3 linked regions of the Homo sapiens genome follow. The main gene of each other region encodes a partner of the protein of the gene in region 3 in a complex. Each region holds a gene or a part of one and is shown on either strand. Other genes may lie near its edges. The genes, in order: KCND3, KCND2 and KCNIP1. A codon is read from its position in the direction of its gene.

Region 1 (6,507 bases), on a different chromosome or scaffold from region 3:
CTCATGGCTTATCCTAGGCTGATTTGAATCCCAGAGACTGACTTTTCCCTCCCCCTCTGCTTATATTTAGGCCACTTCCCACTACCTCCAAATGCGTTGCAGAGAATTCAGGGAATGCAAATGCCAAATGCCACAAATGATAGATATACAATCACTGGTGGGGGTGATGTACATTCTGCAATTCAAAGCCTACTATATACAACTTGGTAATTTCTGGTAGTTTGGGAATAATAATTAGAATGGATAATTACAAGTTGATTACAAAAGGCAGAGATAGAGGCACAACAAAATATCCTCCTAGTTACCACGAGCAAGAAATGTAGGGGGTCAAGGAAGCTTTGGGACGCTGGCCAGCAGGAACCATCATCAACTCACTCTTTTCTATCCCAGTCGCTCCAGCCTTAATTTGAAAGCAGACGACGGACTGAGACCAAACTGCAAAACATCCCAGATCACCACAGCCATCATCAGCATCCCCACTCCCCCAGCGCTAACCCCAGAGGGGGAAAGTCGGCCACCCCCTGCCAGCCCAGGCCCCAACACGAACATTCCTTCCATAGCCAGCAATGTTGTCAAGGTCTCCGCCTTGTAAAACCACTGGACAGAGGGCCAGAGTGGGTAGTGGGGAATGAAGGGGACTGGCATGTTGGTGGGTGGTCACTGAGACCACTCCCTCCCCCCTTTCCCCACTATTTCTGCCTGCCCCATTGTACCCCTAGCACTGAGACTTGTGCCTGGAAGGAAAAAGAGGTAGCAAAGGGGCACCTGAGGTTCACGCTGCTAGCGTGGACATAGCCCTGTGATACTGCATCTCACTGGGGCCAGAGGAAGGGAGGGAGGGTGGGGGGGTCGGGGATAGGCCGGGGGATATAGGCTATGTGCCAGGACAGGGCCTGGATGGAGGAGCCTCAGACTCAGACCAAATAACAGTCGTTTCTGGAGACCCCAGTGAGGAAAATACAAGACCAAGAGCAGCAAAGAGGCCAAGTTGTCACAAGCAAAACAGGAAGAAAATATAACACTGTGTATTTAAGCACCTTTTTCAAGGCTCTTAATGGATAATATTTATTCATGGGAAAAGGTGGAAAACAAAAACACCAACGGATTTTTGTGAAATGTTTTTCTCCATGGACCCAACACCTTTGAACCAAAACAATGCATTTTGTGAGGGATTTTTTTTTCTCCTTTTATAGCAAAAGCTTTTAGGCTAAGAAGTCAGTTATTGCTGAGTTCTCTCTCCATTCCCCCAGGTGGGTGAGGTCAACTGAGCCTGGGCCCCCACTGCCCAGCTGACCTGTGCAGAGCTGCCAAGTGACCACACGGCAATCCTTACCCTTTGTCTGTCCCTGTCTCCCTTGTCTCTGTACCTCTCTGCTTACCCCTAGCTGTTTCTGTGTCCAGCCATCTGTCTCTACCTGGATCCCAATGATCCTGAAACACATCAGTAAAGCCTTCTTCATCACTGCCACGCACAACAGACTTGTGCCTGGGAGTTCTATCTGTGTGAATGCAACTGCAGAGGAGGAAAGAGTGAAGCAAAAATTGGGAGAGTTTAGGGGTAAGGGAAGTCTACCTCACAGAACAGAGGTACTTCCCTTGGGGTTGGAACCACTCGTGTTTGCAGTTTCAGTTTCTGGGAAAGAAAGGGAATGAACAGATTTATCACACTGGAATCTTGAAAAGGCAAATCGCCAACACCTGAGACGCGGTCAACTCTGGTATGTGCCAGTGAGGGGAGAACGGAAGGACCCAGGGCTCGCAGCCTCAGCCGGTCATTAGGGCACCTTGCTATGGACCCTTCCTTCAAGACCCACCATAAAGCCCATCCAGAGCCCTTCCAAGAGGCCCCGGGAGTAGTTTTCTCCAGAGAGGGCAGTGGTACGGGGACCAAGATTCCTCTGACTTATATCAAACCAGAGGCAACTCCCACACAGAGGCTGTGGAAGGGTAAGCCTGTGTGCCTCAAGAAAAATGCTTCAAAGCAAAAGCAAGTAAGAGATTCTAGATGATTCTTACCTGCTATGAAAGATGCCTTGATGTCTGAAGAGGCTTCGGCCTGATCTCCCTGAAGATGCTGAAATGGGGGAGAAGCCTCATCACCTCTGTGCAAGCAAAGGAGTGAAGATTATTTCTTGAACACCTGGACAACATATCTATTCAACTAGCTTGCACCCTGGTGGAGCTGGGGGCAGCATTTCTGGAATCCTCCTAACCATTGTTCACTGCTTGTAGCAGAGTAGGTGGGCCTCAGGGTTAGTGACAAGTCCTTTCCTGCCCTTCCCAACACCCAGCCACCTTGCTGCAGTCTCTGTAGCCTGGGCTCTGAAATACATGAGCTCCTCGGGAGCTGCCTATCCATCCTACAGCTTAGTGGTTAGCTGTTTAATTGTAGGCCAAGAATTTCTCTCCCCACCACAGCCATCTAAATGAGTTTTACTAGCCAGGAACCTAAAAACACCCTTCGTGGGCTTCCCTATGACCCCAGCTCGATTGACCCTGTAGGTTCAAAAGGTTTCGAGGTGGCACCTAACCAGAATGTGGGCAGAAGGCAGAGGAGAGGGAGCCTTCTTTCTGTCTTTATCTCTTTATGCTTATCCTCATTGACCATGGGCTGAGTTCTTTCTCTGGGTCCCCTAATGTGGGAATGGAGTGGTTCTTGCCCTCTGAGCTTACAGACTAAGAAGGCAGAAAAGCTTTACAACTACAGAGTACATGTGTATACACACAACCAACCTAAACACATCAGAGAATACATACTTAAATCAATTCACTTCATATACACATCTCATTAGAAGACCAAGCTAAACTTCACTTAGAGGGCGGGCAAAGGACTAGAAAAGAATTTTTCTCTTAAAAAAAATGAGTACTAGAGCAAAATTATGAGTGTCTAAGTATCTTAGTTATGCTTCATAAGATCTGACTGGGGTAAGAGATAAAGAGGTAAATAGGGCTGGGCGCGGTGGCTCACATCTGTAATCCCAGCACTTTGGGAAGCCGAGGTGAACAGATCACCTGAAGTCAGGAGTTGAAGACCAACTTGGCCAACATGGTGAAACCCCATCTCTACTAAAAATACAAAAATTAGCCAGGCATGGTGGTGGACCCCTGTAATCCCAGCTACTTGGAAGGCTGAGGGGGAGGATTGCTTAAACCCAGGAGGCAGAGGTTGCAGTGAGCCGTGATTGCACCACTGCACTCCAGCCCAGGTGACACAGCAAGACTCCGTCTCAAAAAAAAAAAAAAGAAAAGAAAAAAAAAAAGGAGGTAAATTAGAACTGGTTGCACACACATACAAACTTCCTGTGATGAATTTAAGAACAGATCATTACAGGGTTAGAATAGTGACAGATTCAACAAAGGATCTGTTTGATAGGGCACCAAGGGAACATTTTACTGGTTCCCACAAAAATTAATAAATGTTAAATATCATGTCCCAAGCAATTTCCCATGTTTTTTTATTGGTCCTAATCAACAGAATGTTTTGTGTTCCTTCCACTTCACGTTCAGAGCCCACGTCATGCCACTTCCTAAAAGACCATTAGACCATCCCCTTTTCCTCCATCCTCCACTGTAGCCTTAGCCAGAGAAAAGATCCAGCTCACTTCTGGTCCAAAAAATGTCAACGTTTGGAAAATGGCTCATCTACACTACAGAACACAGCCAGATGACACTGCTAAAGGGTACTGTAAGAAAACACAAGGTCCAAAGTATGCTGAATTGGTTTCATAAGTCTAACTCATTGGCCAGTGACTGAAAAACCAGGATATCAGGATTTTCTGGGGGCCAATAGCCATGACCCTTGAGCTTTCATAGTTCATGAACCACTTTGACATAATAAAATATTCCCAAAACCACCTATTCCATTCAGTCCCACTCAGCATTAAGAGGGGGAGGGAAAAACAAACCAACCAACCAACCTAACAGTTACATTCAAATGTCAAATGAATGTGAACCTAGAAAATGTAGTATTAAGAGCATATCAGAACTAGAAAAGATTTAAGAATATCTAATTCATTTTACAGTATAGAAAACTGAGACCCAGAGAAATTAAATGACTTGTTCAAGGTCATGCAGTTATTTAATGACAGATCTGAGACCAGAACACGAGTCTTTTGGCTATTAGTCTAATGCATTTTCTACCACACCCACTGCCTCTGAGAGCAGTGATGCTTTGGAGAAGATCCATCAAAGAATCCATACTGTAATTGGAGACATAGTCTTATATGTCAATACGTATATGTCAATACTACTTGGACACAGCCCTTGGAAATCACCTGACTGTACCAATACAAACCATACTTTGGAAACCACCATTCTCTGGGTAGAAACATCTATGGACTATCAATTTTGTCAGAAATCAGTGAACAAGTGAAGAGTCAATTTTTTTTAGTCAAATATTTTCTCTTCTCAATGAAGAGAAGACTAGGACAGTGACATTTTGAAGCATACCTTTTATACTCCTTGTGGTTCTTATGACAGTCTGTGATGGTAGTAGGTAAAGTAGCTAAATCCTTGATTCAGAGAGGGGAAAACATGTGGAAAGAAACTGAACGACTTATCCAAGTTCACATGACAAGTTAGTGGCAGAACCATTATTGCAATCCAGGACTTAAGACATCTTGTCCTAGGATTTTTCCTCCACATTATATTGCACTGCTCTGAGGCTTGCTTATATTTTTCATACCTGGATTTCCAGGGTGGTGACGTGGGGGAGGGAAGTATTCAATTCAGAACCACCGTGAACCAAGATCTCTGGAAACAAACTCTGTACTATTTCTCCTTCATCTCCTATTTTCATAACTAGTGCCAAGCTCAGGACTAACTGCATAGACTCCCTTTCAAAAGACCAATAGATATTCTCAGTGACAGTTGAACACATTAGTTTACAATCACACAGAATTTGAACAGAACTTAAAGTTGACAGTTAATGCCGATCTATAATTAACAAAAATGTCAACTTGTGGATATGCTGATGATTTTATCCAGTTTTCAAAATATGATTCCTACAGTTCAGGATATCACTTATTAGATTGTAGACAAGGAAAATGTACATTGGGACATTATGTACTTAAGAGTTTTTCCTTAAGTTTTGCAGAGGAAGTGGTTGAAAATTGAGCTAACACTAGATTTCGAGGTTACTAAAGAATTCCAGTTTTCCAGTCTCCCACTTCAATTACCAGGTAACTATAAGGCAAAAATATCCCAATGCTGTGAACTTAAGGCAATATTCATTTCCTTTCTACACTACTTGGCATGGTAACCATGACAAACTTTTATTTTCTCTTTCTGATTTCCTAATGAAATCTCATTATTTGCAAAGCTTTAAAATGACTAGATGAAGGAAAAACATTGTTATGACCCATGACCCTCGGAGCCCAAACAGCACCATGAAGAGCATCATTAAAACTAAGAGAAAGTGGCTATCAGAAAATGAAACAGCTTTAAAGGGGTTCCTTTTAAGTCTTGTTTTCTATTCAGAATGTTCTGTGTTTTTTCTCAAGTGTGGGAATGACATTTATCTTAGCAGGTTACTCAACTACACTGGATGATGTCACTCTAACCAGTGTACGGCACTGACCCAAGTCCTGGGGGGCTCCTTGGACCAATGGACTATTTTACAAACCTGGGAGGTGGGAGGGATGGTATATTTTTGATAATCAGACATTCCAATGTAATGTTTTCCTTAGAGGTCACACCCTTCCCCCCATTAATGTCATCGTGAGATACATCAAGTGTGTTCTTTTCTATTTTCGTATAATAAATGGGCTTTGCTTATCAACATCACAATGGCAAAGAAGAAATATACTGTACAAAACTGCAGGAAGATAAAACATGAAAACTTTCTATGAAAAAAAAAAAACACCCTTGAGTTTCCTGTCGTCTTCTTTTGAAACTGTAGTGCATATGTTAAAACATGTATATCATTTACAGTATTGAGTCGTGTGCCACTGCTGTACCTGATGTATCCAATCTGGATTAAACAAATTATGTGCCACAAACCCTAAAATGACTGTTTCTTTGAATACTGATTCTCCTTTCCTCCCAAAGGTGCTGGTATATGCTAGAAAATAGAATAATTTGAACACAGATTGGCTTTCTACCTTGCTAGAGAAAACTCACAGAATCTTAGAAGGGTTATTAAAGGCCTAGAGTAATCTTCCCACTCCATCCCTCAATGTAAACATAAACAACTCCTCTATGATATCGCTGATGGTTCTTGCCTGCTTGTATGCTGTATTTGTGGATGTTCGCTAACAGGTAAAGCATTCGATTTTATCTATCAACGGCTCTATTTTGAACACTGACCCCATATTATTGAAAGAAAATCTGACTTTATGTATCAGTACTGGTTTTACTGAGTACCAAGTTCTCAAATTAAAAAGAAAACTCAGAATTAAATGTTCTGTGGGGTATTGTAGAAAGCTTGGGAATCAGATGGTGGAGATTCAAGTTTAGGTTCTAGCACTGAATTGTGACTTCCCATCAGTAACTCCCTCTTGGCTTCAG
Region 2 (8,091 bases), on a different chromosome or scaffold from region 3:
ATCAACCATAATTAAAGTGCATACATATGAATATGTGCATATATATTATAAAATACTTTGATAATTACATCTACAATCTATGTATTACGATGTAAAATAGGAATTATGGTTCTTAGAGGAAAAATGTACACCATAAGTATCTATTCATATGAAAATAATAGTTCAAGTATACCTGGAAACTTTTCATTTAAATGCATTGAACCACTTTATAGACATTTCAATATACATTGTATATATTTGTGTCTTTATTAGGGCATAGATTTTGTTTTTCATTGTCATATTTTTATATATTAATATAAATATTGCTACTACTTTCATATATTCAGGAATTCTAAAATTTCTTTGTATCTTTATCACTTTCAGGCATCAACATTTGCCAGCAATGCCTTAATACTTCAACGTGTGTATTATACCCATTTCACAGATGAAAAGAGTTTTGCCAAACCATTTAGATAATGCTTTCCTAAACTCAGGAAAGAAAACAAATGATTTCCCCGGAGTTACCATGTAACCTCGATGGGTCCACAATCGCCTCACCCATACCCAACCTCCATCCCATTTCCCATTATGGCACCTACCCTAGTGTTGTCATGGTGACGATGGTATACCAGAAGGCTGCAGGGATGCTGGTGAACTTGCTAGCCGAAGACCCCTTCTCTGCGTAGAACATAACTGTAGCGAAGATGATGATAGCCATGGTGAGCGAGAAAAGCAAGAAGCCCAATTCTGAGGCACAACTCTTCAGTGTGTACCCCAGGATGCGCAGGCCTTGAGAGTGGCGGGAAAACTTAAAGATCCTGAAGACCCGGAAGACTCGGAGTGTGACAAAGGCTCCGCTGACGTCCTCATTGTCTGTCATCACCAGCCCAATGTAATAAGGCAGGATGGCCACCACGTCGATGATACTCATGACACTACGCACAAAACGGTAACGACTAGGCGCTGCAGCCAGGCGAAGCAAATACTCAACTGTGAAGATCATGACGCAGGCCGTGTCCAAGCAGAAGAAGGCCACAGCATACCGCTCTCCACAGGGCAGTTCTTTAATGTGACCTGGGCTTGATCCGCACGGCACTGTTTCCACCACATTCGCGATGACAGAGACGGCAATGAAAAACCCCGTGACATAGTAGAACACCAGGGCCATCGTGCTGGTGTGGGGGTTCTCGAAGGCCCTCCAGACCCTCTGCCTTGCAGTCATGGTGGGCAAGGCGCTCTCCCCAGCGGTGTCGGTATCCGCGTCGTCCTGCAGGCGCTCGGCGTTCTCTCGCCTGCGATCCTTGTACTCCTCATAACAGCAGTCGCCGATGATTTCCGGGATGAGGCCAAAGAAGGCCAGTTCTTCATCGTAAGCAGAGATGCACTCGTGGCGAGGATAGTGGAGCTTCCCAGTGCGGTAGAAATTCAGGATGTGGCGGAAGATGTCTGGGTCACGGTCAAAGAAATACTGCTGAGTTTCTGGGTGGTAGAAAAAGTCCCTCTCAGAACTGCCCAGTAGAGTGTCTGGGTAACGTTCCAGGGTGTCCTGCCACGTCTGGAAGCGGGTGCCACTCACATTCAGCACAATGAGAGCATCTTGGGTCCTTTTCCTCTCCTGCCTCGGGGGAGCCGGCATAGGCCCCGAGGCCACAGGCATCCACCCGATAGCCGCTGCCCTTGCAAAAGGCAGCCACGCTGCCACCCCCGCCGCCATGATTACTTGAAGCGGAAGGAAGAAGGGTAACGAGGCGTCTACAATGGGTCACCGAAGCAGCCAAAAGTCACCCACTTCCTCCAGTCAAGCAAAGTACTAGTGAGAAACGTGGTCCAGAGGTGTAACTCTTATTCCAAGATAGGGCTCCTGGTAAAGTCACAGTTCTCAGAAGGGCAACTTTCCCTCCAAGACAGGTATTTGGAATAATGGCAACAAAATACAACGTCCTAACAATCACCCTCAACAGAACCCAGCCAAATCTCTTCCTGCAGGTGGGCTAGGCCACCCTCTGGCACAAATAAGCACACAGGTGCAGCCGTTTCTTCAAACAGGTGTTTTTGATTTCTCCCCGGCACAGTCTGGATAATATAGGGTCAGTATGTGGAGTGTAGGATAGAGAAGACGAACGAGAGTCACCCAATAGAATTCTTTCGACGAATTAGGGAACCCTTACACCTACCCTTCTCACTCTTTCAAACCTTCCTTTCCAAGTAGCCCTTCCCGCCAAAGGAGTCTCAAAAAGGCGACCTGTTGTTGTAGCTCAGGAGATGCGGTCACAGCCGCTGCCCCACGTCTCTCTTTGGGGGTCCAGCTGCTGCTGCCTCTACTCCTCGGGCTGTATTTGCAGAGATGGAGGTGATGTGCAGTGGTTACGGTGGGGGGCGTTAATAGAGATTCTCCTCCCCCACGTCTACAAACACCCTCTGTGTCTGCCAAAAGCGTTCGCCCAATCGCCCCTTCACTCTCTTTTCAAGTTCAGCTCAGGTGCAGTGTGACAGTTACAGAGCTCAGGAGCTGGCAGCCGCCGCCGCCGTGGCGGCAGCAGCATCTGCTTCCGCGCAGAACGCGCCGCTCCCGCGGTACATACCTGGCCAAGTGCGCGCCGGGGCTTAGTTGCATAGAGACTTTCTCCTCGCCGTGCACCCGGAAAGGGAAGAGGAGAGAAAGCAGCTCGCGAGCAGCCGAATCCGATGCGCCGAGAGAGCATAAATAAAGCTCAAGCGAGCTCTTCTTTCCCTTCCCCCATCCCTCCGTGCCTCCCTCCTCCTTTTCACCTTCCAAAAGCCAGGCGCAGGCGAGCAGAGCAGCAGCAACAAGTTCAAAAGGTGCGGGGGAGGCGAGAACGGAGGGGACTCGCTCCTGCCAACTTACTGCGGGGCCACTGTCGCGGGAGCCTGGCCAGCGCGGTGCGGGGCTGCGGGGCGGCGGGGCTGCGGGGCGGCCGGGCGGGCGGCGTTGGCGCGGTGGGGCCGGGGCCGGGGCCGGCACGGGCTCTCGTCCGAGCGCGGAGGCAGAAGGCGCTCGGCAGCGCGGGGGCGCGGGAGGGCTGCTAGCTGCTTCCCCGCCAGTGGGTGGTCCTGCATCTCCCCGGGCTCCCCGCGCTGCTCTGCTAGTGCGATCAATAAATAAGGAGAAAATAAATAAATAACCGCGCGCACGCCCCGCCACGCAGGTTAGGAAAGGCGTCTCCTGCCTTTCCCTCGGCTTGACCTTTCTCCGCCCCCGCCCCCTCGGGCTCCTCTCGCTCCACCCCAGCCACCCACCAACCCCGGCGCAAAATGTCACCGAGGGAGAGCATCCAGGTGGATCTGCTGGGGAGAAAAGCGAGCCTCGGATGAACAAAGGGAAGCTTCACGTGCTGGGCTGCGGTGGTTTGGTGGAGGAGAGGAGAAAGGGGACCCGTGCCTTGCTTCTGCCTCTCGAGTCCCGGTTCAAGGCGAGCGTGGGAAAATGGGGGGAAAGAGAGCGAGAGAAGCTGGGAAGGAGGGTGAGCGGAGCGGAATGCGCAGGAATTGGTTGTCTTCTGGGGGCGACTGGAAGGCAAGACCCGCAAAGCTCCGACGCGGAATTTTTAAGTGCATTTCCTCTTTCTGTTTTTATTTATTTTCAAAACCAGATTGTTAACGTTGCAGGGATTGATATGCCATCTGTCCAACTTGCCAAAAAATCAGAGACTCTCCTCGATCGAGGTCTTGACACAACTCCTTTTCCCGTCCTTTACGAATAACAGGGATGTGGAGCCCTTTTCTAAATGTCATCGTCAAGGGGCGTGCGTCTCTGAAAGTTTGCGTCCCCTTCATCCTCTCTGCGCATCACTGCGCATATTTAAAATAGTTAAAAGAGTTAAAGGTGTTCGTATGAGGGGTTACTGAGGTAGAGAGACACAGGAAAATTGTCGCTACCAACCTTTTTGTTTTTCGCGTACCCCGCCCCCGAGTCATTAGGAATCATCCTTAAAACCAAACGTAACACATACAAGCCACTAGATGGCGTGGATGGCGAGAAGTTAAATCTGCACCTAAGGTTTGGATGCTTTAGGAAGGTGAAGGATCAAAATTAACTGGTCCAACAGAGAGTCAGATCACATAAACATCCCCAAACCCCTTCGCTGCCACCCACCTTTTTTGTGTTTATGTGACATATACTACTTAGGCTTGAGTCTGCATTTGGATAGTTGTGGGATGAGATGTGGAGAGTTTCCTTTTGAAATTCCTTTGAAAATTAAATCTAGATTACTGAATCATCATCATCATAGTAATTAAGATCTTTGGCAATAATGAGGCTTCATCTGTATTGATGAAGAATAGTAGCCTAATTTCTACCTAAAAATTACTTTTCATGGCTTGGTTTGACTGCCCTTGGTTTGTAAAATAAGTGGACTGTGTGTTGTACTTTACGGAAATTGACTTTTAAGCCCTAGAGATTACAGGCATGATGTGTCAACCTTGAAAATTTGAAATGGGATACGTCAAAGAAAATATATAAACTAAAAAATGAGTATAGAAAATAACCAGAGAATTTAAAATATCCTTATCATGTACAGGATTTTCTGTAGAGATAAAAGGGTATTTTTTGTTTGTTTATTTGTTTACAGAATAGAGATTTAAGGAATCCTGTGTCAGTAGTAATGAAGTCAGAGCTAATGCACCATTTAAGTTTGAGGACAAGGAACTGAAGACACCTGCTCTTTATCTATTTGTTTAAGTGAAAGATGCTTGTTAACCAATCTATATAGCCTGCATACCTGAAAACAAACACACAAGCATGTTACCTGGAAAATGGAAATGAGGGGCTTACTACCAATTAATATAAGAAAACCAACCCCTCGTTAGTCCAAACAGTAAGGTGGCACTATGACAGGTGCTGGGCATGGAATCCAGAGGGTGGAGCGCCATGAATATTTAATCAATGCCAATAATGGCATGCTTTCCTGTAAAGATGGGGCGAGGAACCTAAATAGAGCCTTTAAAACTGTGTGGGAAACTGAATGCTTACAAATGTAAAAGTAGGAGCTTAACTCACAAAAGCCCCAAAGAAGCAAGAACATAATATGTACAGTTTTTAAGAAGGTACTGGGATCTGCCCTCCTGCATCTTCAACAAGCTTCTTGATATAGTGGAAAGAATGTGGGCTGAGAACTTAAACACATCTAAATTCAAAATCTTGCTTAAGAAATTACTTACTGGCTTTGTTTCATTTGGCAAATTACTTCTATGATTAGAAATTATAGATAATGAAATTTAACTTTTCAGGCCTGTCGTGAAGATGAAACAGGATCATACTTCTGAACACCAGTGAAATACTTAGCACATGAAGTGTACTCAATATTGGTTCTTTTTTATTGTAATGCATAATGCTAATGCAATTCATTTTATCCAGCCCGTATTTGGAATTCCCTTAGATACTTTCCATAGTTATGTATTGCTTAATGACAGGGATACATTCTGAGAAATGTGTCTTTAGGAGATTTCATCACTGTCTGAATATCATAGAGCGTACTTACACAAACTTAGGTGGTATAGCCTACTACACACCTATGCTATATGGTACAGCCTATTGCTCCTAGACTACAAACCTGCCATCATGTTACTGTACTGAACACTGTAAGCAATTTGTAACACAGTGGCAAGTATTTGAACCTCTAAACATATATATACACAGAAAAGTTGCAGTAAAAATACAGTATAAAATATTTTTAAGAACGGTACACCTTTATTTGGCACTTCCTATGAATGGAGCTTACAGAACTGGAAGTTTCTCTGGGTGATCAGTGAGTAAGTGGTGAATGAATGTGAAGGCATAGCACATTACTGTACACTTCTGTAGACTTTATAAACACTGTATATTTAGGCTATGCTAAATTTATTTTTAAAATCTTATTTTTCCTTCAATAATAAATTAACCTTAGCTTACTATCTTTTTTTACTTTAAAAACTTCAATTTTTAACTTTTTGACTCTTTTGTAATAACACTTAGCTTGAAACACAACACATTATACAGCTGTACAAAAAAATATTTTCTTTATATCCTTATTCTGTAAGTTTTCTTCTATTTTTGTACTTTTTTTGTTTTGTTTTGTTTTGAGACAGAGTGTCGCCCAGGCTGGACTGCAGTGGTGCGATCTCAGCTCACTGCAAGCTCTGCCTCCCGGTTTCACGCCCTTCTCCTGCCACAGCCTCCCGAGTAGCTGGGACTACAAGCACCTGCCACCACGCCTGGCTAATTTTTTGTATTTTTAGTAGAGACGGGGTTTCATCGTGCTAGCAAGGATGGTCTTGATCTAGACCTTGTGATCCACCCTCCTCGGCCTCCCAAAGTGCTGGGTATTTTTGCACTTTTTAAAAACTTTTTGAATGTTTTGTTAAAAGCTAGGACACAATTACACTGGCACAGACCTACACAGGGGCAGGATTATCAGTATTACTGTTTTCCATATCCACATCTTTTCCTACTGAACGTTCTTCATTCTGTCTTCAGGGACAGTAACATGCATGGAATACCAAGGCATACCAATGCCTTCTTCTGGAATACCTCTTGAAAGAGCCTGCTTCAGGCTGTTTTACAGTTAGCTTTCTTTTATAAGTAGAAGGAGTACACTAAAAAATAATGATTAAAAGTATAGTATACTAAATATATAAACCAGTAACATCGTTTATTATCATGATCAAGTATTATATATTGTACATAATTGTATGTGCTGTACTTGTGCAAGACTGGCAGCACAGCAGCATCCTCACAGACACCTGAGTAACGCATTAGGCAAGGACATTACAATGGCTGCGCATCCCTAGGCAGTAGGAATTTTTCAACTCCCTTATAATCTTTTTGTTTTTTTCCTTTCCAACTTTTATTTTAGGTTCAAGGGGTCCATGTGCAGTTTTGTTACATGGGTAAATTGCGTGCTTTAGGGGTTTGGTGTGCAGATAATTTTGTCATGCAGGTAATCAGCATAATACTCAATAGTCCCCTCCTTCTACCCTCCACCCTCAAGTAAGCCCCGGTGTCCACTGTTTCCTTCTTCGTGTTCATATGTGCTCAATGTTTAGCTCCCACTTAGCAGGGAGAACATGTGATATTTGTTTTTCTGTTTCTATGTTAATTCACTTAGGATAGTGGTCTCCAGCTCCATCCATGTGGCTGCAAAGGACATGATTTGTTTTTTTTATTGGCTGCACAATATTCCATACTATGTATGTGCTACATTTACTTTATCTAGTCCACTGTTGATGGGCATCTAGGTTGGTGTCATGTCTTTGATATTATGAATAGTGCTGTGATGAACGTACATGTGCGAGTGTCTCTAGGGCAGAACAATTTCTATTCCTTTGGATATGTATCCAGTAATGAGATTGCTGGGTTGAATGGTAGTTCTATTTGAAATTCTTTGAGAATCTCCAGACTGCTTTCCACAGTGATCATGGCAATCAAGCAAGAGAAAGAAATAAAAGGGATCTAAATAGAAAGAGAGGAAATTAAACTACTTCTCTTTGAAAACTATATGATTTCATACCTAGAAAACCCCATAGTCTGCCCAAATGCTCCTGTCTCTGTGAACAACTTCAGCAAAGTTTCAGGATACAAAATCAATGTACAAAAGTTAGTAGCATTTCTACACATCACTAACATCCAAGCTGAGAGTCAAATCAAGAATGCAATTCCATTCACAATAGTCCATTATAATCTTATGGAACCACTGTGTATATGTGATCCATCATTGACTGAAATGTCGTTATTTGCTATATGTCTGTCTGTATTTACTCTTCCCTCCGAATTCAAAAATCCCCTTGTTCTGATATTCAGATGATAGTGATATTTTAGTCTTCATTCATGCATTGAAATGCTATGTGAAAAGTAGGCATACAAATTCTCGAAGAGCACGGTATATATCTCCCTTGCTTAGGGATTCTTATTCTTTACTCTTCTCATTTTATATACTCTGTTTGGTTGATTACAAGGAAAACAAACTCAGCAGGATCAACCTTGAATGCATCATCTCTCTCTTCCAATCATCTACTCCCTCTTTTCTCTTTTGATCAGTGAAGTCCCACAAAGAAACCTGGTGGTCATCCTGTTCTTTACTACTTGCCCCCCAGCAAACACCCAGACATAGCCAATGA
Region 3 (7,517 bases):
TGGAACCTGAGGAAATGCCTAATGTAAGTTTCTCCCTTTACAAAGAAGAAACCGAGGCCCCAGTGGGGAAAAGTGACCTGGCCAGGATAGGCTCCCTGACCACTAGCCTCCTCAGCCAGGGCTTCCTCCAGGTTTCCAAGCTGCCTCCCATAGAAGGGTCTTCTGCTGATTAGCATTCCACTATGCAAGGCAGTGAGATGACTGTGCTTCGGGGGCAAATACCTGGGGGAACATATGCAGCTGGACCCCTGGACAACTCACGCCAGTGGGCTTTGTGCAGGAAGGGCTGAGTGCCCAGTGCTTCGATAGCTTGTCTTGGGAGTCCACCCATTGGCCCCGAACCTGCTATGAGCCTCAAACGAACATTGTTGTGAGGGTTAAATGAGAGTTGTTGATAAAACACCGAGCATTATGGCAAGCACACAGTAGGGACACACTGAATGCCAGTACCCCCTCTTCTGTTTCTTAGAATCCGAGGAGACAGAAGCAAAGACCTTTGTACTCTGGGAATCCTGCAGGAATTCATCCAGGGTGAATTCCTGGATGTTTGGGGCAGGAGAAGGAAATGGTAGACAGCAATGTCTGAGCTCTTACTCTTTTCCCAGCCCTATGCACGGAGCTCCCTATTCATCATTCATTTGATTCTCACATCCTTACAACAACTTCCTCTGGGTCCCTGGTGGCTGCAGCCAACACAGTATATGAGGCAGAGTCTTCCCTTCCTCTACTTCCTACATACCCTTCCCTCCGGGAAGTAGCATACGAATTTCATGGATGAAAAACTGAGGCTTAGGGAGGTGCGGGGGACTTTCCTAAGGTCCCAGAGGCAGGGAGTGATGGAGCTGGGATTCACACCCAGACTCCACTTGACTCTAGGGCTTGAGATCTTTCTGTGACACCCAGCTCCCAGGAGAGCCACAGGCATTGAAAATATTTAAAAACAAGCCCCTGACTTTCCTGTCCCCACAGTCCCCTGGCCTCTGAGACCGCATGGTGGTCAGACAGATGATGAGGGAGAAGACCTATATTTGGCGCTGAAAATTGTCCCCAGTCAAGCAGCATCCCAGGATCTGTGAGAGGTGAGGCTTAGAATGTCAAGGCCTTGGGCTGAGCTTTGCAGACCTGTTCTGGTCAGGACTGGTAACAGGACAACCAGTCCCTTCCTTGCCAGCAGGACATGTAACTCAGCTGGACAAATGGGCCAAAGCCTCTTCCTATGTTCTAGGATGTAAATGCCAACCCAGCTTCAGCACCTAAGATCTGCACCCAGAGATCTCTTTCCTCGGGGCTCAGCCAGCCTGATGCCCCTGGGAGCTGGGCCAGAAGCTGGGACCCCTTCTTCCAGGGGGTTTCAAGGACAGCTTACTTATGGAGATCTCTGTGGTTCTAAACAGGGTGAGACCAACCAAGTTCTAAGAGGAGACTTATTGTTCACTTGGGGTCCCTTACCCCATTACACTTCTACTCACTATCAGGCCTGTAGGGTAGGAGCTTAACTCCCACCTGTATCCAGGATGGGGGCTCTGATGGTAGAATTTGAATGTTTAAGTGTCAAGCTGCTTAAAATCTTACCACTCGTAGTGACATTTGAACATTAAACAAAACAAAACCCATCATTTCCCGTTTCCTAACTGCTTCCAGTCTCTTTATTCCAACCACTAACTTTTGAACTGCTGGTAAGGAGACCTGCATTGTCCTCCAGGGCCCAACACACTGGTTCCAACTTCACCTGGACCCATTTGAGGACTCTCCCACGGATGGTGAGATCAGCCATGCCTCGGCTGGGGACAGGTGGTGAAGGAACAGCGTCCAGGCAGAAGAGACTCCACGATATTATGCTTTTTAATCCTTGATGTAAGCTCAGCTCGCAGCCAGCCCTTCACGGTTGCTCCTCCTGACTCCCGGAGCCACCAGGACATGAGGCCTGGGAGTTTTACCCCTGGCAGCAGCTGATTCCTTTTGGCTTGCAGAGGTTTTGGGGGTGCAGACAGAGCACTCTTCCTGATGAAGGGACTCGCAGGTCTGCACCTGGCATAGCCGCCTAGGAGGAGTGTGGGAGTGTGGCAGCACCCTCACTGAGTGCTCAAACGCCAGCTGTCATGGGAATGGGAAGAGCTTCACCACACTTCCACCAGAGAATCCGGTCACCCCCACCTGTGAACATGCCGCTTCCTTCGGCTCTCAGAGATTTCCCCAGGAGGAGAGTCCCGACACCTGGTGCCCCAGAGGGGTCCAGTTGCCGCTGGGGCAGACGTCCACTCCGGCTCCCTCCTCTGGGTGTTCACACCAGCCCTCCCGCCGATTTCTCTCTCCTTTGGATACAAGCACCTGTCCGGGCTCCTCGTGGAGAGGAGAGTCCGGACTAAGGGAGGCAGGTGGCACAGCCCACCTCGGCGCCTAGCACCCCCAAGCCCAGACAGGGGAACAAAAGGAAGAAGGTGGCTTACCTTTCGAGGGTCGCCTTTGTTTGGTTTGCAGAGATGAGAAGGTGCCCATGACGGCCCCCATGGCAGCGAAGACTTGAGTGCGAGTTGGGACCCCGGGCCCGGCCCCTCCCCTACCCTGGAAAGAAATCCCCGTGGTTTGTCTACTCTGAATTGGAGGAGAGAAAAGCGCCCGGCAGCTCGCCTGCAGCTTGGTATTCAGCAAGCGTGGAGGCGAGGCTAGGAGGCTTCTGGCTTCCTTCTTCAGCCCCGCACATGCAGGGACTCAGGGCTAGCCGCTCCCCGCGAGCCTTCGGAACCGCTTCCCCGCGCGAGGACCCGGCCCGGCGGTTCCCTCGCCCAGGGCCGAGGACGGTGCCCTGAAGCCTGCCTGGCACTGGACACGGGGCCAGAGCGGCCGCCCGGCCGAGGCTGCCGAGCCAGCGCCGCGTGCGGTGCGGGAGCCGCCGTCCGCCCGCCCCTCCTGCCGCACACTCGGCTCCCCTCCCTGCGCTCGGGCTGGGTCTCGGAGGGCCGAGTACCAATCATGAATGAACAGAGCCCGGACCGCGCGGCGCGGAGCCACAGCGCGCCCGCCTGCTGCCTGCTGCCTGCTGCCAGCGCTCGGGGCGAGAGTCGGAGCGGCGGAGGGGGCGGCGGAGGGGGCGGCGGGCGGGCAACTACGGAGGGGCGGGGCGGGGGCGAGGGCTGCACGGTGGGGGCGGGGGACGCCCAGCCCTGCGCCCTCACCCCTGCGCACCCTCATCTGCCGGGGTATGTGCGGGAGCCCCGGGAGCATGTAACCCTAAGAGACAGACCCGGGGCCAGGCACCTGGCTGATGGGTGAGGTTCAGGGGGCAGTAGATTGGCCCCAGGGAGACTGTGTGTGTGTATGTGTGTGTGTGTGTGTGTGTGTGTGTGTGTGTGTGTGTGATGTGCGTGCGTGCGTGTGTGTGTGTGTGTGTCCCTGTGTGTGGTGCATTGTGATTTCATTCGACTTCAAGGGAAATCTTATTTAACCCACTGCCTGAACTCATGGGGAGGGGGAAAGTCTGCCCCACCCAGAAAGGGGTGAAAAACACATCCAAATGGGTGGTCATGGGAAGAAGGTGCCGTCCTGCTCCGCGGGTCCTTGAGGGTTCTGCAGAATCCTCCTATGGCAGGGCCCACCTTCTAGTGACAGGGAGTTGGGGAGGAGAAAGGAGCCCTCAGCCCCTCTGGGCCCTTACACTCTCATTTTTCTTTTTCTTTTTTTTTTTTTTTTGAGACGGAGTCTCGCTCTGTTGCCCAGGCTGGAGTGCAGTGGTGCGATCTCTGCTCACTGCAACCTCTGCCTCCCAGATTCAAGCGATTCTCCTGCCTCAGCCTCCGGAGTAGCTGGGATTACAGGCGCCCACCACTAGGCCCAGCTAAATTTTTTTGTATTTTTTAATAGAGACGGGGTTTCGCCATGTTGGGCTGGCTGGGCTTGAACTCCTGACCTCAGGTGATCCACCCGCCTTGGCCTCCCAAAGTGCTGAGATTACAGGCGAGAGCCACCCCACCCGGCCTGCTCTCTCATTTTTCTGTTTCTTTCCTCCTTGGTTCTACCTCTTCTCCCTTTCCAGCTCAATAATTCATTAGCCATCAGCTCCTGGGCACGGGTTGTTAGTGCTTGAAGGGGCAATGATTAGATTTAGGAAGCCATTTCCCTTCTGTGAGTGGCGTCTCACCCAATGGGCAAAGTTTGCGTCCCTGCCTGTGGACTCAAAGCCTTGTGGTGTTGAATTGCAAGGTTTGCTCCCTGGAAGGTGGAGGAAGAGCTTCCCCTCCCCCAAGTCTGAGCTGCTTGGGTTCCCACTGAGACCCATTTTGATTGACACTGAGGATCCTTTGCCCAAGCTGCCCCCTACAATCCCACCCAGCCATTTTCTGTCTGCCACACAGATACACACCATGCTAGCAGTTCACAGAATACCCGGATGTATGGCCTCATAAACAAGCATGCATGCCCAGAAAGTCCCACAAACATATGGGCGCAGGTCCTTAAGTCCGCACAGACATTGCTATTGTACACACAGACAGACCCAAGGCTCATAATACACCTACAGTTGCCCCCCACGAAGGTGGAGAGACACACAAACACACAGGCATGCAGACGCACACACAGCAAAACAGCATGACAGTCACCACATTCACACAGGCTCAATGCCACATAGGCACAGAGTTGAATCCCCAGGATACAGGCCCCTTGAGAGCTGCTTCCCCTAATGCCAACCCATGAGCTGTCCCCTCAGGGCCACAGGTAGCCTGTGACTTGGCCAGGGTCCTTGAATAGTTTTCTTCACCTGTGCAGCATTTATTGCTTTTCTGCAATCCCAGCATGTGTCCTGTTTTGTGCAACAGGGGAGGGGCACTTACTAACATACTTCCTTTCCTTTGCATTGCCCACTGCTGTGCAACCACATTGTCCACGTGATGCCCACCAAACCCCTGTGAATTAAGCAGGTGCCTGATCATTACCCCAGAGAGAAATTGAGGCTTACCTTGTGTTAGAAATTTGCCTGAAGTTGCCCAGCCAGGATGTGGGATTAGAACTTGGGTTCCAGGCCTCTGTCGTGGTCTCCTGGGGAACCCCTGCTCACAGATGAGGGCACTGAGCCAGAAAGACCTGCTGGGGGTCCCACCAGATTCACAACCTCTGCTCTCCTAACTGCCAGCTCAGGGCTTGTCCAGGCCAGGGAGGCCTGGAATCCTGGAAGATGGAGCAGGGGCTGGTCCCTGCTTCCCTCCTGCCTTCTCTGTTCGAGAAGAGGGCATGCGAGGCTGAAGCTTGGGGTCACTAGAGGACCCAGTGGGATATCCAGGATTCAGGGAACAGAGGAGAGCTCTTTGCTGAGGAGAAAGTTAAGCCACCCTGGGTGTCTTTGCCAACTTGTCAGGGATACCACTGGGTGAGCACCAAGCTACTTCCCCCTTGGGGCTCTGCTAATTTTCATGGTACCTGAATGACCATAAGGACAGCACTTGAGAGGTCACAAAAGGCTAGAATGTCATCCTCTCATTTCTGCTTCCCCACAACCCACTGAAGAAGCAGAGTACAGATGACTTGCTCCATTTTGCAGATCAGAAATAGCAAAGTGCTTCTGGACGTGTTTGCAATTGGCTGCCTCTGAACAGTAGGTATAAAGTGAAGTCACCAAAATAAAATCCAAACCATTGAACATGAATTATGAGGTCTTTTTTGTGGCCTGTGGCTTCTTCTACAAATCCTCCCTGACCCCTGGTGTTCCCTTTGTGGCTCAGCCACCCAGACCCCTCACTATTTCTCAGATGCGTGTTGTGGTTCTCCTTCAGGGCCTTTGCACGTGCTGTTCCCCTTGCCTGGAATGTTCCTCACCTCTTTCTCCTTCTGGCCACCTGCTGCTTACCCTGGAATATCTACTGCAGATGTCATCTCCTCCAGGGATCCCTCCCTGGCCCTGAGTCGGTGCCCTGCTTGTGGTTTCCATAGCACCCAGGGCTTCTTATCAGAGCACTCCTTACTTTGTTTCTCATTGTTCCTTTCCTTGCCTGTCTCTCCCTCTGGACTGTTTTAACTGCTTTACATACTGATTTAACTCTCTACTTTCTGCTTAACCTCCGGTTTCTGACAGGGGTGCAGCCAACCTATGCTGAATAAATGAATGAGTGAGTCTCTTTTCTTTGCTCAGTGACCCAGTTAGTAAGCAGAAACTGATGATTACCAGATCATCCTTGCCCCTTAAAGGAAGACACATGCTCTGCCAAGTGAAGATTCATTCATTCACTTATTTATTCAACAAATATTCATTCATTCATGTATCTACCATGTACCAGATATTTACATGCACAATAGCTCATTTATTCCTGCGGACGCCTTGTGACATGGGTATTATTTGCAGATAAATACACACACATACGCACGTGCCCACTGTACAATGCAGCCAACATCACCCATGAGATGCTCACAAAGAATGTGTCTAAGTAGAAGAACACAGGTAAGTGTGAGGGGCAAGAGAGAAAGATGATGATAACAGGCCCTCTGCCTGCCTCCTGGGAACTTGCAACAGAGAGCAAAGAACTGCATGGGGAGAGAGGGAGTGACAAAATGAATGTGCAGAGGGAGTGCTGAAGAAGCCTCCCATCAGTCACCCTGACTGCAGGAGCCATTTGTCCTGTTGTCCCTCCCATGATGTACTCAATACAGCGACCTTGCCAGCCCCATCCAACCTGAGCTTCAGTGGCTGTTGCTCCCTTTACTCTGGAAGGTGAACTAGCTCATGCACTTTCTCCAGCTCTGACCCCTCCCTCATGCACCCCGGTGTGGACTGAATGTTTGTGTCCCTCCAAAATCCCTGTGTTGAAGCTCTAAGCCCCTGTATGGCTGTATTTGAAGAAGGGACCTCTAAGGAACTAATGAAGGTTAAAAGAGGTCATAAGGGTGGGGCCCTGATCTGATAGAGTTAGTGTCCTTACAAGGAGAGACTCCAAAGACCCCCCACGCACAAAGATACCATGTGAGCACACAGGGAAAAGGCAGTTGCAACACAAGGTGAGAGGCCTCACCAGACACCAACCCTGCTGGCACCTTGATCTTGGACTTCCAGTTTTCAGAACCATGAGAAAATAGATTTCTGTTGTATAAGCCACCCAGACTGGGGTATTTTTTGAAGGCATTCCAAGCAGACTGATGCGCAACCCCAGTGTCAATCCATGAGCTCAGAAAGTTCTGGACGCAAGGCCTTCCTTCTGCCATAAGCCTCTATATAGGACTCCTTAGGCAACCCCTCTAAGGTTGTTCAGGGAGGAAGGAGTGAGATTGTCAGACCTGCAGGAATCCTGTTAAAACATGCATGTGCTTGTCTGAGTTTATGTAACACACAAGCCCTGTTCTTTCCCTCCCTCCCCCTCTCCTTTCTTCCTCTTTGTATCTCTTTCTTTCTTAATTTATTTCTTCCTCCCTGCTGCCTCCTTCCTCCCTACTCAGTGCTCCCTTAGCCATGTTTCTTCTCATCCTTATGGACAACAGTAGTTCCTTCCAGGCACAGAGGTAGCATAGAGTCAGATTGAGAGCATTAATTTGGGAGGCTGCTA

What was found.
Region 1: the proteins of KCNIP1 (region 3) and KCND3 are in contact, whole or in part, in a crystal structure (PDB 2NZ0), measured with the Homo sapiens proteins. Residues at the interface, in NP_001030009.1 of Homo sapiens: Leu67, Arg69, Gly70, Phe71, Glu74, Val80, Phe85, Ile88, Tyr89, Phe92, Phe93, Tyr101, Leu105, Phe109, Phe122, Ala125, Leu126, Leu129, Leu130, Leu138, Trp140, Thr141, Leu144, Tyr145, Ile161, Val162, Ile165, Tyr166, Met168, Met169; in NP_001365898.1 of Homo sapiens: Ala6, Ala7, Trp8, Leu9, Pro10, Phe11, Ala12, Arg13, Ala14, Ala15, Ala16, Ile17, Gly18, Trp19, Pro21, Val22, Pro26, Met27, Pro28, Leu29, Ala30, Pro31, Lys34, Lys36, Arg37, Asp39, Trp54.
Region 2: the proteins of KCNIP1 (region 3) and KCND2 are in contact, whole or in part, in a cryo-EM structure (PDB 7E8E), measured with the Homo sapiens proteins. Residues at the interface, in NP_001030009.1 of Homo sapiens: Thr60, Arg62, Glu63, Val66, Leu67, Arg69, Gly70, Phe71, Asn73, Glu74, Phe85, Ile88, Tyr89, Gln91, Phe92, Tyr101, Leu105, Phe109, Phe122, Leu126, Leu129, Leu130, Lys137, Thr141, Leu144, Tyr145, Val162, Ile165, His185, Phe189; in NP_036413.1 of Homo sapiens: Ala2 (codon at 1,690), Val5 (codon at 1,681), Ala7 (codon at 1,675), Trp8 (codon at 1,672), Pro10 (codon at 1,666), Phe11 (codon at 1,663), Ala12 (codon at 1,660), Arg13 (codon at 1,657), Ala14 (codon at 1,654), Ala15 (codon at 1,651), Ala16 (codon at 1,648), Ile17 (codon at 1,645), Gly18 (codon at 1,642), Trp19 (codon at 1,639), Met20 (codon at 1,636), Pro21 (codon at 1,633), Val22 (codon at 1,630), Ala23 (codon at 1,627), Ser24 (codon at 1,624), Gly25 (codon at 1,621), Met27 (codon at 1,615), Ala29 (codon at 1,609), Pro30 (codon at 1,606), Gln33 (codon at 1,597), Arg35 (codon at 1,591), Lys36 (codon at 1,588), Arg37 (codon at 1,585), Thr38 (codon at 1,582), Gln39 (codon at 1,579), Asp40 (codon at 1,576).

The regions. Positions count from the first base shown.
Region 1 is NC_000001.11:111,770,162-111,776,668, reverse strand, and holds the end of KCND3 (A-type voltage-gated potassium channel KCND3), read left to right. Parts: intron 1-390; coding exon 391-592; 3' UTR 593-6,007; downstream 6,008-6,507. UniProt on the Homo sapiens protein: Pore-forming (alpha) subunit of voltage-gated A-type potassium channels that mediates transmembrane potassium transport in excitable membranes, in brain and heart. In cardiomyocytes, may generate the transient outward potassium current I(To).
Region 2 is NC_000007.14:120,268,235-120,276,325, reverse strand, and holds the start of KCND2 (A-type voltage-gated potassium channel KCND2), read right to left. Parts: upstream 3,152-8,091; 5' UTR 1,694-3,151; coding exon 579-1,693; intron 1-578. UniProt on the Homo sapiens protein: Voltage-gated potassium channel that mediates transmembrane potassium transport in excitable membranes, primarily in the brain. Mediates the major part of the dendritic A-type current I(SA) in brain neurons.
Region 3 is NC_000005.10:170,499,564-170,507,080, reverse strand, and holds the start of KCNIP1 (A-type potassium channel modulatory protein KCNIP1), read right to left. Parts: upstream 3,062-7,517; 5' UTR 2,509-3,061; coding exon 2,448-2,508; intron 1-2,447. UniProt on the Homo sapiens protein: Regulatory subunit of Kv4/D (Shal)-type voltage-gated rapidly inactivating A-type potassium channels. Regulates channel density, inactivation kinetics and rate of recovery from inactivation in a calcium-dependent and isoform-specific manner.